Linked DNA regions of Homo sapiens. The protein of the gene in region 2 purifies or fractionates together with the protein of the main gene of each other region. This does not show direct contact. Each region holds a gene or a part of one and is shown on either strand. Other genes may lie near its edges.

What was found.
Region 1: the proteins of TPST2 (region 2) and HEATR3 purify together in Homo sapiens (co-immunoprecipitation; 2 studies listed by BioGRID and IntAct, with this or other methods). This does not show direct contact.

The regions. Positions count from the first base shown.
Region 1 is NC_000016.10:50,096,943-50,103,969, reverse strand, and holds part of HEATR3 (HEAT repeat-containing protein 3), read right to left. Parts: intron 3,741-7,027; coding exon 3,597-3,740; intron 1,712-3,596; coding exon 1,535-1,711; intron 1-1,534. UniProt on the Homo sapiens protein: Plays a role in ribosome biogenesis and in nuclear import of the 60S ribosomal protein L5/large ribosomal subunit protein uL18 (RPL5). Required for proper erythrocyte maturation.
Region 2 is NC_000022.11:26,587,113-26,594,167, forward strand, and holds the start of TPST2 (protein-tyrosine sulfotransferase 2), read right to left. Parts: upstream 3,021-7,055; 5' UTR 2,941-3,020; intron 1-2,940. UniProt on the Homo sapiens protein: Catalyzes the O-sulfation of tyrosine residues within acidic motifs of polypeptides, using 3'-phosphoadenylyl sulfate (PAPS) as cosubstrate.

The sequences.
Region 1 (7,027 bases), on a different chromosome or scaffold from region 2:
GTAGCCTCCAACTCCTGCACTCACACGATCCTCCTGCTCAGCTTCCTGAGTAGCTGGGATGACAGGCATGAGCCACCACTTAATGGCTAACTTAAAAAAATTTTTTTGTAGAGACAAGTTCTTGCTATGTTTCCCAGGCTGGTCTTGAAATCCTGGACTCGAGTGATCCTCCCACCTGGGGCTCCCAAAGTGCTGGGATTACAGGTGTGAGCCACTGCGCCTGGCCTGTGGTTTTTTATATCAATTGTATGGAATCTGAGTTTGATCTCACCTCTAGTCTAGAGCAGTGGCTCTCAGGTTTTAGTGTGCAACGGTATCATCTGGAAGGCTTGTTGAAAAATAGACTGGTGGGCCCATCCACAGAGTCTATGACTCAGTAGGTCAGGAGTTGGGGCCGAGGACCTGCATTTTGAATAAGTTATCAGGCAAGGGCTGATGCTGCTGATACAAGGAGGGCACTTTTGAGAAACACTGCTCAAGAGAAGTTCTTGATTGTACATAAATGCATTTTGCAGCTAAATATACACTGAATAGCCTTTAACACAAATTGTGGCTTCATTTAGCAAAAAAAAGAGTTTCACATAAATAACTACAGGCTAGCCTCTGGCTAGGAAGAAATCTCATTAGAGCTTTATACCTTTGATAAAAGAAAAACAAATGTTATTACCACAGCAATACATACTGAGTAGGAAAATCAATCAGAACAAAGACCTTTCAGAAGTCAGGGGTTATTTTCCCAGTTCACTGTTTAACCTTTTTTAAGCACCTGCTTCTGCAGAGTTTGATGACTCTAACTATTAATATATCTGCTTTCCTTGAAGCTGCAGGGAAATAGGGGATATTTTTTTCTTATCTTGCAAGCTCTTTATCCAGAAATTTAAAGGACTGTAACCTTTAAGAACAATATGGCTGGGCACAGTGGCTCACACCTGTAATCCCAGCACTTTGGGAGGCCAAGGTGGGCAGATCACCTGAGGTTGGGAGTTCGAGACCAGCCTGGATGACAAGGCGAATCCCCGTTTCTACTAAAAATACAAAAATTATTTGGGTGATGTGGTGGACACCTGTAATCCCAGCTACTTGGGAGGCTGAGGCACAAGAATCACTTGAACTGGGGAAGGGGAGGTCGCAGTGAGCCAAGATCGCACCACTGCACTCCAGCATGGGCGACAGAGTGAGATTCTGTCTCAAAAAAACAAAAAAAAGTAAAATTAAATAAATGCAAAATGTGTATGAAAGTGCTTTGCAAAATACAGAGTATAATACTGACATATATGAAGCATTGTCAAAATTACTAAACTTAAAAAAAGAAGAACTTGTCAGATACCATTTTAGCTTCAGTTTCAATGATTCAGTAGTCACACTGTTGAGCTATGACTCAGTCAACGAACATTTTACAAAGTACTGGGGATGCTGTGCTACATATGGGGATTCGTCATGCACATGCTTCTGAGTTGCACAGCGGTAACTACACACACCCTTGTCCCCACAGAATGTTCAGACTTATGTATTTATAAGTTAAATGGCTACAAACCTTCATTTTAAAGACCGGCTGGAATTCTTTCAGAGCAGATAATAATTTAATTTGAATCGAGGCTCTTTCGGCTTCTTTACCATCTGCAAAAACATCAAAGAGGGCATCCAAAGCTTCTCCTGCTACCACAAGGGAAGGATCTTTGGTGGTAACTTCAAGCAGAAAGCACCCAATGTTCTGGAAACAACAAAACACATTTAGTATGACTAACACCAGTCTCCAAAACAAGTACCAACTTTGAATGTGGCAATAACTCATGCATACTATTTTATATACAAATGCCAGGGAAAAATTAAAACTTCAAGAGATTAGACTTAAATACTTATAAACATACCAAGTATAAGCAAGATAAATTAAACATATTATAGTTTATATTCATAAATAAAGTGAATTAAAATCCATAAATGATGTATGATTTTGGAAATCACTAAATTTTCCCCTCTACCTCTCTCAAAAAGGATTTCTCCATGATGTCAAGATGCATAGAAATATTATCTGTAACAACAACGACAACAACAAAAAATCTGCTTTTAAAAGCATAAGAAAAACACTTTAGGCCAGTTGCAAGTGGCTCACACCTGTAAGTTCAGAACTTTGTGAGGCTAAGGCGGGAGGGTCGCTCGAGCCCAGGAGTTCAAGACCAGCCTCGGCAATGGAGCAAGACCTCATCTCTAAAAAACGTAAAATAGGACTGATCTGAATCGAATCTAGTCTGTAGATCTAACTGTCAGTTTGTAGGAAATACAAGGATAAAAAAACAAATTTACCACCACAAGGTAGCAATCAGACAAATCCAGAAGGTTTTGGACACTATATTGGACAACTGATCCAGGAGGTGAGAATAACCACGTGGTGCCGGGGAGGAACTGTTCAAGATTAAGAGAGAAAGAGAAGACCCCACAGGAAACATAACATGTGGACTTCAGCAGTGTAAACAAGCTCTCTGTAAACAGATAATTTTGAGGCAACTGTAAAATTATGAATATGGACCAGGAATTAGACACACTAAGAAATAACTGTTGCCGGGTGCAGTGGCTCATGCCTGTAATCCCAGCACTCTGGGATGCTGAAGTAGGTAGATCGCTTGAGCCCAGGAGTTCAAGACCAGCTTGGCCAACATGGCGAAACCCCATCTCTATTAAAAATACAAAAATTAGCCAGGTGTGGTAGTGGGCACCTGTAATCCCAGCTACTCGGGAGGCTGAGGCAGAAGAATTGCTTGAACCCAGAGGCGGAGGTTGCAGTGAGCCGAGATCACACTACTGCACTACTGTACTCCAGCCTGGGTGACTGAGACTCCATCTCAGAAAAAAAAAGAAAAAAAAAAAAGCTTTGCAAGTATCATTTTTCAAAAATAGATTCTTAAAAACATCAGTCATCATTGTAAAGTTCTTAGCAGGTTAAGAGGTACTTTATAATAATGAGTTTATTATCCACTAGTCTCACACTTCAGCAATTATTAGCACACCAAAGTGTAATGTTACTATGACTGTCCTTTTAATTACTAGTGACGCTGTACTCCTAACAGTGCAGTTTGTGAGCAACTGTGCTAAGTGGTAAGAGCAAATATGCTGAGGGAATTGCTAGTATATTGGCACTACCAGGGTTGCTGCTTAAAATTTATGGAGTGGTATTAGAATTAATTAACTGTGTTGTATTTTTCAGAATGCATGTTGCCTGGTGTGCAAGGAAAATGGTGTGGATTGTTCATTCATCAGCAGGAGAATGTAACATGCATACATTGGATGCAACAGCAAAGGCAGAAGGCATCTTTAAAAATTCTGAATTTGCCCTTTCACTAAAGACAGATTTATTTTTTTAAAAAAGTACCTCTGGAATAACGTTAAATTGTAAAATGTGGCTCAACTTTTCAAATACTTACCTAATTAATACACATAGTTAGATCAAGCCAAAGGGTATATTCTAATAATATGACTCAATAAAGCAACTTGATATGACTTCTTCTCTTCAAGTCCACACAAGTTTTAAGAAATCCTACACCAACAGTTCTTCTCCCATTTCTAATTATTTAACATGTTAGGTCAGAAGCAAATTGTTTTACCTTAAGAGTTTCAAGTGTACCATCTTCTTTGGCAAGGACGCTGCCAGTGATTCCTAAAATGCTAACGACATTCACTCTAACCCCGACATTACTACTATGAATGCCTGCTTTGCATAATGTCATCAGCTGATCAGGAGTCATGCACTGTTAAAAGAGAAGAGGACAGTATTTATAATGTTAAACTCAATTAATTCTATCAGCATGTGAAAACCGGACTGACAGGAATCTCCTCTATAGGCTACAGGATTTTAAGAGTGACATAAACTCCTGGCAGGTAAGTTACTATTAATATGTATTCCAGTTCTCCCAGACAGAGCTGGTAATTCTGAACTAAGGTGAACCCTGCTCATGTCGGCACTGTTATCTAATATCAAAGGGGCTCCATTTAATTTGATGAAGACTTTCATTCCAGATGTACACACACTAAAGAGAGTCCAATTCCTTTTTAATATTAATGGTAAGAAAAAGGCTTTGAAAGTATAAATAGGATTGTGTGGTTTTAAAAAAATTGGCTGAGTCTATACAAGGTAAGAACTTACTTTGAGATATCTGTATTATCATAATTAAAGACTGTAGAAACCATTACATTATATGGTGCTTCTACCATGTAGTGGATAATTTTCAGTTTAAGGCTGGGCGCGGTGGCTCACGCCTGCAATCTCAGCTACTCAGGAGGCTGAGGCACAAGAAACGCTTGAACCTGGGAGACAGAGGTTGCAGTGAGCTGAGATTGTGCCACTGAACTCTAGCCTGGGCAACAGAGTGAGACTATCTCCTATAAGCAGCAGCACAGTGTAGTGATGAAAGGCTTGGAATCTGGAGCCAGACACAAAGGCTTGGAATCTGGAGATTGAACCCTGGGTTCAAATCCTAGCTTCACTACTTATCACTCGTGTGAGCCCCTACACTAGACTAATGTATTTTTATTTTTTGTAGACATGAAGTCTCACAAAGTTGCCCAGGCTGTTCTTGAACTCTTGGGCTCAAGCAATCCTCCCGCCTCAGGCTCCCAAAGTGTTAGGATTATTAGTATGAGCCACTGCACCTGGCCCTGAACATGGGCTTTGAGTAATTTTCCTTAACCATCACACTGATCCCATAAGCTGCTGCTTACATACCAGGGGAAATCAATAAAAATACTTGATATTCCTATAGGCCCTAGAGTATAAGGTTTTCTGGTCCATCCAACAGCCACATGGCAGGCTATGCATCCCATTACCATTCCTACTTCTTAGAAACTGAGGGTCAAATTATGCTCTTCAAAAAAATTCTTAGCTTTGGAAAGCTGAGGCAAGAGGATCACTCGAGAGCAGGAGTTTAAGACCAGGCTGGGCAACATAGCAAGACCTCATCTCTATTAAAAAACTAAAAAATAAAAATAAAGTATAAAAAAATTTTAAAAGCATTAAGAAAAAAATTATATAAAGAAGCAAAAAGAAATAGTGTTATTGGCAATAACAAGAGCATTGTTATTTTGATACTATTAAGTACATTCCGTAGGATAAAGCAAATAATAGTTTTAATGTCACTACAATTTTAATGTTACTACAGCAAACAATTTTAATATCACTGTATAGCAAATAATTTTAATGTCTTTTAATGTCACTACTACAAAGTACATTCTGTAGGAGAAAGCAAATAATAAAATTTTTGAAAAATATTTTTCTTTCTTTTCTCTAATTTTAATTTTTAAATTATTTATTATTATTATTATTTTTGAAACGGAGTATCGCTCTGTCGCCCAGGCTGGATTACAGTGGCCCGATCTTGGCTCACTGCAAGCTCCGCCTCCTGGGTTCACACCATTCTTCTGCCTCAGTCTCCTGAGTAGCCAGAACTACAGGCACCCGCCACCACACCCGGCTAATTTTTTGTATTTTTTAATAGAGACGGGGTTTCACTGTGTTAGCCAGGATGGTCTTGATCTCCTGACCTTGTGATCCGCCCACCTCGGCCTCCAAAACTGCTGGGATTACAGGCGTGAGCCACCGTGCCCGACCTATTTATTATTATTTTTAAAGCCAGTCAAACTTAGCGTGGGGGGTTGTATACCAACTTCAGTGACACTAATGTTAATAAGTCCTGATAACCCACTACCATCAGACCAGCTGCAAATAAGAATTTTAATGTCACTAATGTATCTTTTTGGGTACAATGTACCTTTTTGGGTACAAATGTATCTTTTTGGGGGATACAAAAAGATAGAAATACAAAATCGAAAATTAAGTAAAAATATTGTACCATTTTTTATTTAAACTGGAAATTATCAGGATAAACTTACTATTTTTGTCTCCTAAAAAAATGCCTATTTCCTAGCTATTTCCACTAAAAAGACCTAGAAACAATGGCAACATGATAGCAATAAGCACTCCACAATTCACTTTCCCCACTAAAGAAATCAGAGCTTCTTGGAGAAGTAACTAATTCCAGGGTTTTTTTTTTTTTTTTTTGAGACGGAGTTTCACTCTTGTCACACTCTTGTCACCCAGGCTGGAGTGCAGTGCAATCTTGGCTCACTGCAACCTCCACCTCCTGGCTTCAAGCGATTCTCCTGCCTCAGCCTCCCAAGTAGCTGGGATTACAGGCGCGTGCCACCACACCCAGCTAATTTTTGAATTTTCAGTAGAGACGGAGTTTCGCCATGTGGGTCAGGCTGGTCTCAAACTCCTGACCTCAAGTGATCCGCCCACCTCAGCCTCCTAAAGTGTTGGGATTACAGGCATGAGCCACTGTGCCTGGCCAGATTCCAGGTTTTAAGCAAGAAAATTACAAATTGAACCTGGGACATCCTATGCCTGGAAGCAAAAGTGATCAAAAACCTAAAATTCTTGTAAAAGAGGCACAGGAGCCAATTTGAAGGGACTCCTACTATCCAAAGATGGGATGAATTTGGCAGCAAAAAGCATGACTATAATGGAATGAAATACAAATATATAAAAAACCCTGAGTTCAAAATGATACTAAAAAAAAAAAAATCACTGGTCACTTATAGAGATTGCTAGGATAGCTATTCTGAAAAAAAAAAAAATCATAGCTAATAAATGTAAAAAAAAAAAAAAGAAAAGACAAAATTAGGGTATCTCTATTCTGCAACCCACTAATGACATAATGGAGCCAGGCAACCACAATCACTGGTTATAAAACCATTATGTGAACCCACTAATTAATCTCAGCATCACTATTTTATAATATCATATGATTTGTGATATAAATATAGGAAATATATAAAGCACTATAAATTATTCTTGCCAAAAAATCTGGACCTGTCTAGATTATTTATTATAAATACAAAAAATAAATAAATAAATAATCTGGACCTGGATCTAATTAAGGCTCTAGACCTAGCTCCCGGCTCACAGGAAACATGGGGGACAGAGGAATGCTGAACGATGCCATCATGATGAGTTGGCCAAATCTGCCAGTGCAGAAAA
Region 2 (7,055 bases):
CAGACTTAATTTTGGGGTCAAGGGACAAGTCTTCCCCTTCAGTTATGGTCTAGGAGAGCCATGGAGGGTCTCCCTGGCCTCCACAAAGCCTCAGCTGGCAAGGGGGCTCCAGGCTGGCCCGGGATGGGAAGATCCGAGCAGCTTCCACCTTCCTTTCACCCCCTCCTAATACTGTGTGCCAGCTCCTGGGGTGGGCTCTGTAAGCCACTGGGTCCTACACTGCCTCTCCTTGCTTCGGTATTTTCACAGAGTCTTGCTCTGTCACTTAGACCGGAGTGCAGTGGTGTGATTGATCTTGGCTTACTGCAACCTCTGCCTCCTGGGTTCAAGCGATTCCCCTGCCTCAGCCTCCCAAGTAGCTGGGGTTACAGGCACGCACCACCACACCTGGCTAATTTTTGTATTTTTAGTAGAGACGGGGTTTCACCATATTGGATAGGCTGGTCTCGAACTCCTGACCTCAGGTGACCTGCCCACCTTAGCTCCCAAAGTGCTGGGATTACAGGTGTGAGCCTCCGTGCCCGGCCTGAAAATAGTTTACAACTAACACATCAAAGCCAGTGATTTCAAGGGTTATGACTGCTTCAGAGAACACTAAATGTATTTAAGATTATTGGAACCCTCATACACTGGTGGTAGGAATATAAAATGGTACAGCTGTTCTGGAAAAATAGTCTGGCAGGTCCTCAACAGGTTAAACCTGGGTGCAGTGGCTCACACCTATAATCCCAGCACTTTGGGAGCCTGAGGTAGGAGGATCGCTTGAGACCAGGAGTTCAAGACCAGCCTGGGCAACATAGTGGGACCCCTATCTCTACAAAATAAATAAATAATAAAATAAATTAAAAAAATATTTAAAGGTGAAACCTAAAGTTACCTTACGACCCAATCATTCCACTCCTAGAAATATACCTGAGAGAACTGAAAATGTATGTCCAAAGACCTGTACATGAATGTTCATAGCAGTATTATTCATAATAGTCAAAAGTTAGAAACAACCCAAACATCCATCAGCTGACAAATGGATAGAATGTGGTATATCCACATAATAGAATATTATGCAGCCATAAAAAGGAACGAAGTACTTAAAAAAAAAAAAAGGAATGAAGTACTGATACAGGCTGCAAGGGGCTGAACCTTAGAAACATTCTCTGAAGTGAAAAGCATCAGATACCAAAGGCCACATAGTATATGACTGCATTTATATGAAATGTCCAGCACAGGCAAATTCATAGAGAATTTGAGAGTCAGTAAGTGGTTGCCAAGGGATAGGGGAAGAAAGGATTGGGGAGTGACCATGAAACAGCCTTTCTTTTGGGCATGATAAAAATGTTCTAAAATTAGACAGTGGTGATGACTATGCAACTCTGAACATCCTAAAAATTACGGAAACATATACTTTAAAAGGGTGAATTGTACGGCATGTGAACTGTATCTCAACAAAGCTGTTATAAAAAAAGTTTGCATGAGATTTTTAAAAATCAGGTGATACAAAGATGTATATTAAGTAAACAACAGTACAATTGGGGTTCAGTGGGGTGGGGGGATTCAGAAATGACCCAACAGTTCCTTTAGGACAATGAAATAAACCCAGCTTTACAGTTATGGAAACTGAGACTAGATCGGAAGGAAAATGCGTCGCCCGGGCCACATCACTACTAAATCCGGTGTGTCACAGATCTGTTCAAATCCAGAAGCCTACCCTCGCCAGCAGACCACCCTGCTGAGATGAAAGGGTTATCACATGGAGGCTAGGGAGAGGTGTCCACCCACAGCCCAGTCTGGCAGACAGACATGCAAGGGAATGTCTGTTGGGAAGTGAGAAAAAGGGCTGGCTAACTCTGTGGGGTTCAAAACAGGAAGCACCCAACAATACCAGGAGAATGCCAGGGAAGGCTTCCCGGAGGAGGTGCTGCTTGAGGGGGCTTCTGTAGGATAAGTAGGAGTTCAACAGCCCGCCTCCTCAACATCCCCAAGGACATTAAGTCAGGAGGCCTGTGAGTGAGTTTCAGCTCTGCCACATCCTAGCTGTGAATCCTAGGGTCACGGGCAGGTGACCTCTCCAAGCCTCAGTCTCCCCATCTGTAAAAGGGGAAGGGGGCAAGAGGTTAGGCACGGTTCTTTCTAATGACTCTGCTGAGGTGGATGGTTCCTTCCCTAGGGAACGGGCCTTTGAGTGGGAATGCCAGACCTCGACCTCTGTCCCATCTAACAACGACTCTGCCAGGTCAGGCGTGCTCAGCCTCTGAGCCCATGCTCCCAGTCCCCTGCTACCAGTCCCAGTCCCGGCTTTCCGGGCACCTCCCATCCAGCTCACACCGAGAAGCGGAGTTTACGGAGGGAGGTTGGGGGTTGGGGTGGGATCCTCGGGTCAAATTCCTCTCCACTCCTCACCAGTGACCTCCAAGTTCACTAGGGCTCCCCAACCCAGTGCTCCCAGCGCCCACCTCCCCAGCCGACGATTTCCGCCCCCAACGCCTCCACTTCTGACGCTCCTCGCAACTCCACGGCTGCTGCAAGTTAACTTCCACGCGCCCTGGCGCCCGCCTGGGGGTCCCCGCGCGCCTGGGCGAGGTTGGGGACTCCGGAGGCGGGGACGCGCCGCCCTCCCCCCCAGTCCCCCCGCCAACAGACGCTGAGCGTCTCCCAGGCGCTGGGTCCGAAGCGGGAAGCGTGGTAACGGGGGCCCGGTGGATGCCGCACCCCGCGGAAAGCGCTCGGGACGCCGAGCGGGTGCGGATCCCAGAACCGCGCGCCCGCGCCGCCTGCCTGCCTCCCAGATCCCAGCTCCCAGCCCCGGAGCCCGAGCAGTCGCGCCGGGCCCGGAGGCAGCCGCCAGGACGGAGGGCTGCCAGGCGCCCGAGGCCGACCCGCACGGCCCCCAGCCCGCGCCCCCGGTTGCAACCCGAGGCCACCCCCTGCCGCCCCAGGGCCACCTACCGTGGCGAGACGCGGCGAGGCAGCCCCACGCACCCAGCGACTCCCGGCTCTCCAGCCGCCCCAGCCGGGGAAGGGGGAGGTGCCCGCGCGGGGGCGGGGCCGCGGCGACGTGACGTACGGGGGCGGGCCCGATACGCGGCCCCGCCCCGCCCCGCCCCATCCCCTCCACTGCGCCTCGGGACCGCGAGGTGAGCAGAGGCTGGTCGGGAAGTTTCCCGGAGGCTCGCCCCGGGAACCCCGCCCCGCCGCCCTGGAAGCCCCTGTCTGCTCGCTGGCTTACCCCTAGGACGGGCAGCTCACCACTTCTCCCGGTCAGTTCTGTTTAAGAGAAGTTCCTTTCTGCCTGTAAGCAATGAAGTGGAATGATCACCAAAAAGTGGTGTAAGAAAAGAAAAGTAGACCCGCAGCGGGGTGTATTCGTGCTACTGTTTGTGTAAAACACAGAAAAAAGAAAGGGGTGGTCTGATGTATAGTCATACACACCAGTGGTTTTGGAGGGAGTTTTTGTGGATATACCACATTCTCTCCATTTATCAGGGATTTTGCCCTGACATCCCTCCACCACCACGACATTTGGCAATCTCTGAAGACATTTTTGGTTGTCATAACTGGGGAAGTGGAGAGGCGATACTGGCATCTAGTGAGTAGAGGCCTGGAATGCTGCTAAACATTCTGCGGTGCATAGGACACCCTTTCCACCCCCAGCCCTGCCACTACCCCCCCAAAAAAAACCCTGCAAAAAATGCCGAATAGCGTAAAGGTTGTGAAGCCCTGATATACACAAATGAAACAAAACTCCTGACTGATAAATCTTAGCACAGTCTAAGTTCTATAACCTTTCAGTGCTTCTGCTTCTTCATGTGTAAAATTGGAAAAATAATAGAGCTATCTATGCATCGTATGCTTGTGCATTGAATACCTGAAGAAAAGGTAGGGTAGGCATGCAGGCTTACTTTTCATTGTGAACTTTGGTTCTTTGTTCTCTTTTAACTTTCTATTTGCCATATGTATATATTATCTGTTTAAAATAAATTTCTGGGTCAGGTGCATGGCTCACACCTGTGATTCTAGCACTTTGGGAGGCGAGGCGGGCGGATCACTTGAGGCTAGGAGTTCAAGACCAGCCTGGCCAAAATGGTGAAACCTCGTTTCTAATAAAAATACGAAAATGACTTTGGGAGGCCAAGGTGGGTGGATCACATGAGGTCAGGAGTTCGAGACCAGCCAGGCCAACATGGCGAAACCCTGTCTCTACTAAAAATACAAAAATTAGCCGGGTGTGGTGGTACATGCCTGTAGTCCCAGCTACTCAGGAGGCTGAGACAGGAGAATCGCTTGAACCTGGGAGGCAAGGGTTGCAGTGAGCTGAGATTGCACTGCACTCCAGCCTGGGCAACAAGTGAGACTCTGTCTCAAAAAAAAAAAAAAAAATGCAATCCCAGCACTTTGGGAGGCCGATGCGGGTGGATCACCAGGTCAGGAATCCAAGACCAGCCTGACCAATATGGTGAAACCCTGTTTCTACTAAAAATACAAAAATTAGCTGGGCATGGTGGTGCATGCCTGTAGTCCCAGCTACTCAGGAGGCTGAGGCAGAAGAATCGCTTGAACCCAGGAGGTGGAGGTTGCAGTGAGCCAAGATCGCACCACTGCACTCCCACCTGGGCGACAGAGTGAGACTCCGTCTCAAAAAAAAAAAAAAAAAATGAGCAGGGCATGGTGCTGCTCACCTGTAATTCCCCCTACTTGGGAGGCTGAGGCACGAGAATTGCTTGAACCCAGGAGGCAGAGGTTACAGTGAGTGTAGATCGCACCACTGCACTCCATCCTGGGTGAGTACACACACACACACACACACACACACACACACACACACAGAAACTAGGGCACACAGATATTAAGTAATTTGCCCATGGCCAGCCACATGTTCATTCATTGGTCATTCATTAATTCATTCATGTGTCCAATAAATAGTTAGTGCTTGCCTTATGGAAAATGCTGGGACTGATAAAGCTGCCTCCATGGAGCCAGCCATTACTGGTCTGGAAACAATACAACAACATTACATAGTGTTTATTGCGTGCATGTTAGAGACTTCATATGACTGATTTGATAGACACATAGATTAAACACCAGCAGGGTGTTTTATAATGTCCTTTTGTGGATGAAAAAAATGGAGTTCAGAGGAAGAGGTGTGAATGGGGGCATTTGTTTAATAACATTCTAGCAATGGCATTTCCTGAGCTCTCTATGCTAGGCACAGATTCAGCAGCTAACAGGGGGACAAAGGTCCAAGTTGGGGAAGCTAGATCCTTCAACAAGCCTTCACAGTAAAGTGAGCACCTGTAACTGATGAGGCAGGAGCAGCAGAGATTAACCTGGTCCAGGGAGGGAGGGCCAGGCGTGTGTATACATGCCAGAGGCATGGGTGGGGATCCTTGGAAGAGTGCACTGGTCACAGAATCTAGCAGGTGCAAAGGCCTAGCAGGAAGGAAGCGAGCCTGGGGCCTTGCATGAAGTGCAGAGTGGACAGGATGTGGTGGAGGTGAGAGAAGAGATCAGAGGTGTCTGCAGGGCTGGATGCTGCAGAGCTTTGTGGGCTGTGGGAAGGAGTCGGGGCTTTTCTCTTGCAGTGATGGAGAGACAGGGAAGGTGTTCAACAGGGGAAGGGCATGGGGAGCCTGACTTTCTGCAAAGATCCCTCTGGTGCTGTGTGAAGAAGAAACAGGCAGAAACTGGTTTGGAGGGTGTTGAAATAATTCAGGAACCCAGAGAGGGGATGTGGGCATGGAGGGGGTGTTTTGGTTCCGGAGAGGTTTGGAAGACAGAATTGGCAGATCTCAGTTGAGAGGCTAAGGAGGAGGATCAGAATGATCGTCTTGTTGTCTAGGTTGGGACTTCTCTCAGTACCCCTAGCTCAGTGAACCTTTCCAGGTCTCAATCTGTCTGTCACCTCCTTGAGGAAGGCTAATTGCCCCTCAGGACATCGTGGTGGACCAGACACCAGACTGTGCAGCCCAGGAATTTGATGTGACTTTGAAGGCAGACAAAATAATTCATTCCTCCTGTCTGCATCTTCAGCCGGGAACACCTAGAGCAGATACCTCTTCTGTCTTCCTCCCCAACCTATCTTCCCAGCATCTAGGCAAAACCCAGTACTTAAGAGGTTTTATCAAAAGCAGGAAGAATATTTATCAAAAGCAGGAAGAATAGATGTAGCATAATACACATTGATCCAAAAATTCTTTCCAGCTCTGACATTCAAGAGGATGAGGTTGATGTTATGTCAATAATTACACTTTAGGCCAGGCTCAATGGCTCACTCCTGTAATTCCAGCACTGTGGGAGGCTGAAGAGGGAGGATAGCTTGAACCCAGGAGATTGAGACCAGCCTGGGCAACATGGTGAGACCTTGTCTCTACTTTTTTTTTTTAATTAAAATTTTTTTAAAAACCATTTTATTTATTTTTATTTTATTTATTTATTTCTTTGAGACAGAGTCTCACTCTGTTGCCCAGGCTGGAGTACAGTGGTGTGATCTCGGCTCACTGCAACCTCCGCCTCCTGGGTCCAAGCAGTCCTCCTGCTTCAGCCTATTGAGTATCTGGGATTACAAGCATGCGCCAATATGCCTGGCTAATTTTTGTATTTGGAGTAGAGATGGGATTTCTTCATGTTGGCCAGGCTCGTCTCCAACTCCTGACCTCAAGTGATCCACCTGTCTTGGACTCCCAAAGTGCTGGGATTACAAGTGTGAGCCACCATGCCCAACCACAGAAAACACTTTATTCAGGTGCTTGCTATGTGCTAAACACCTTATAATTATTATATTCAAGCTGATCATTTACCCTCTCCAAGCTTTTGGTGTTTTATTATCATTACTCCCATTTTACAGATGTGGAAACAGAGGCTCCAGCAGGTAATTTGATTTGGCCAAGGATAATAGCTGGTAATTGTCAGAGCTGGAATGCAAACTCAGGTCTCTCTCACCCTTTCTAGTACACTGATAGAAGGCAGTGGCTCGGCAGTGGGCAGGAAGTAAAAGTAAGTGGGCAGGTTTTCTTCTCCTGCTGGAAGGGTGTAGTATTATTGTTCCTAGCTGGGGATCCAGGCTT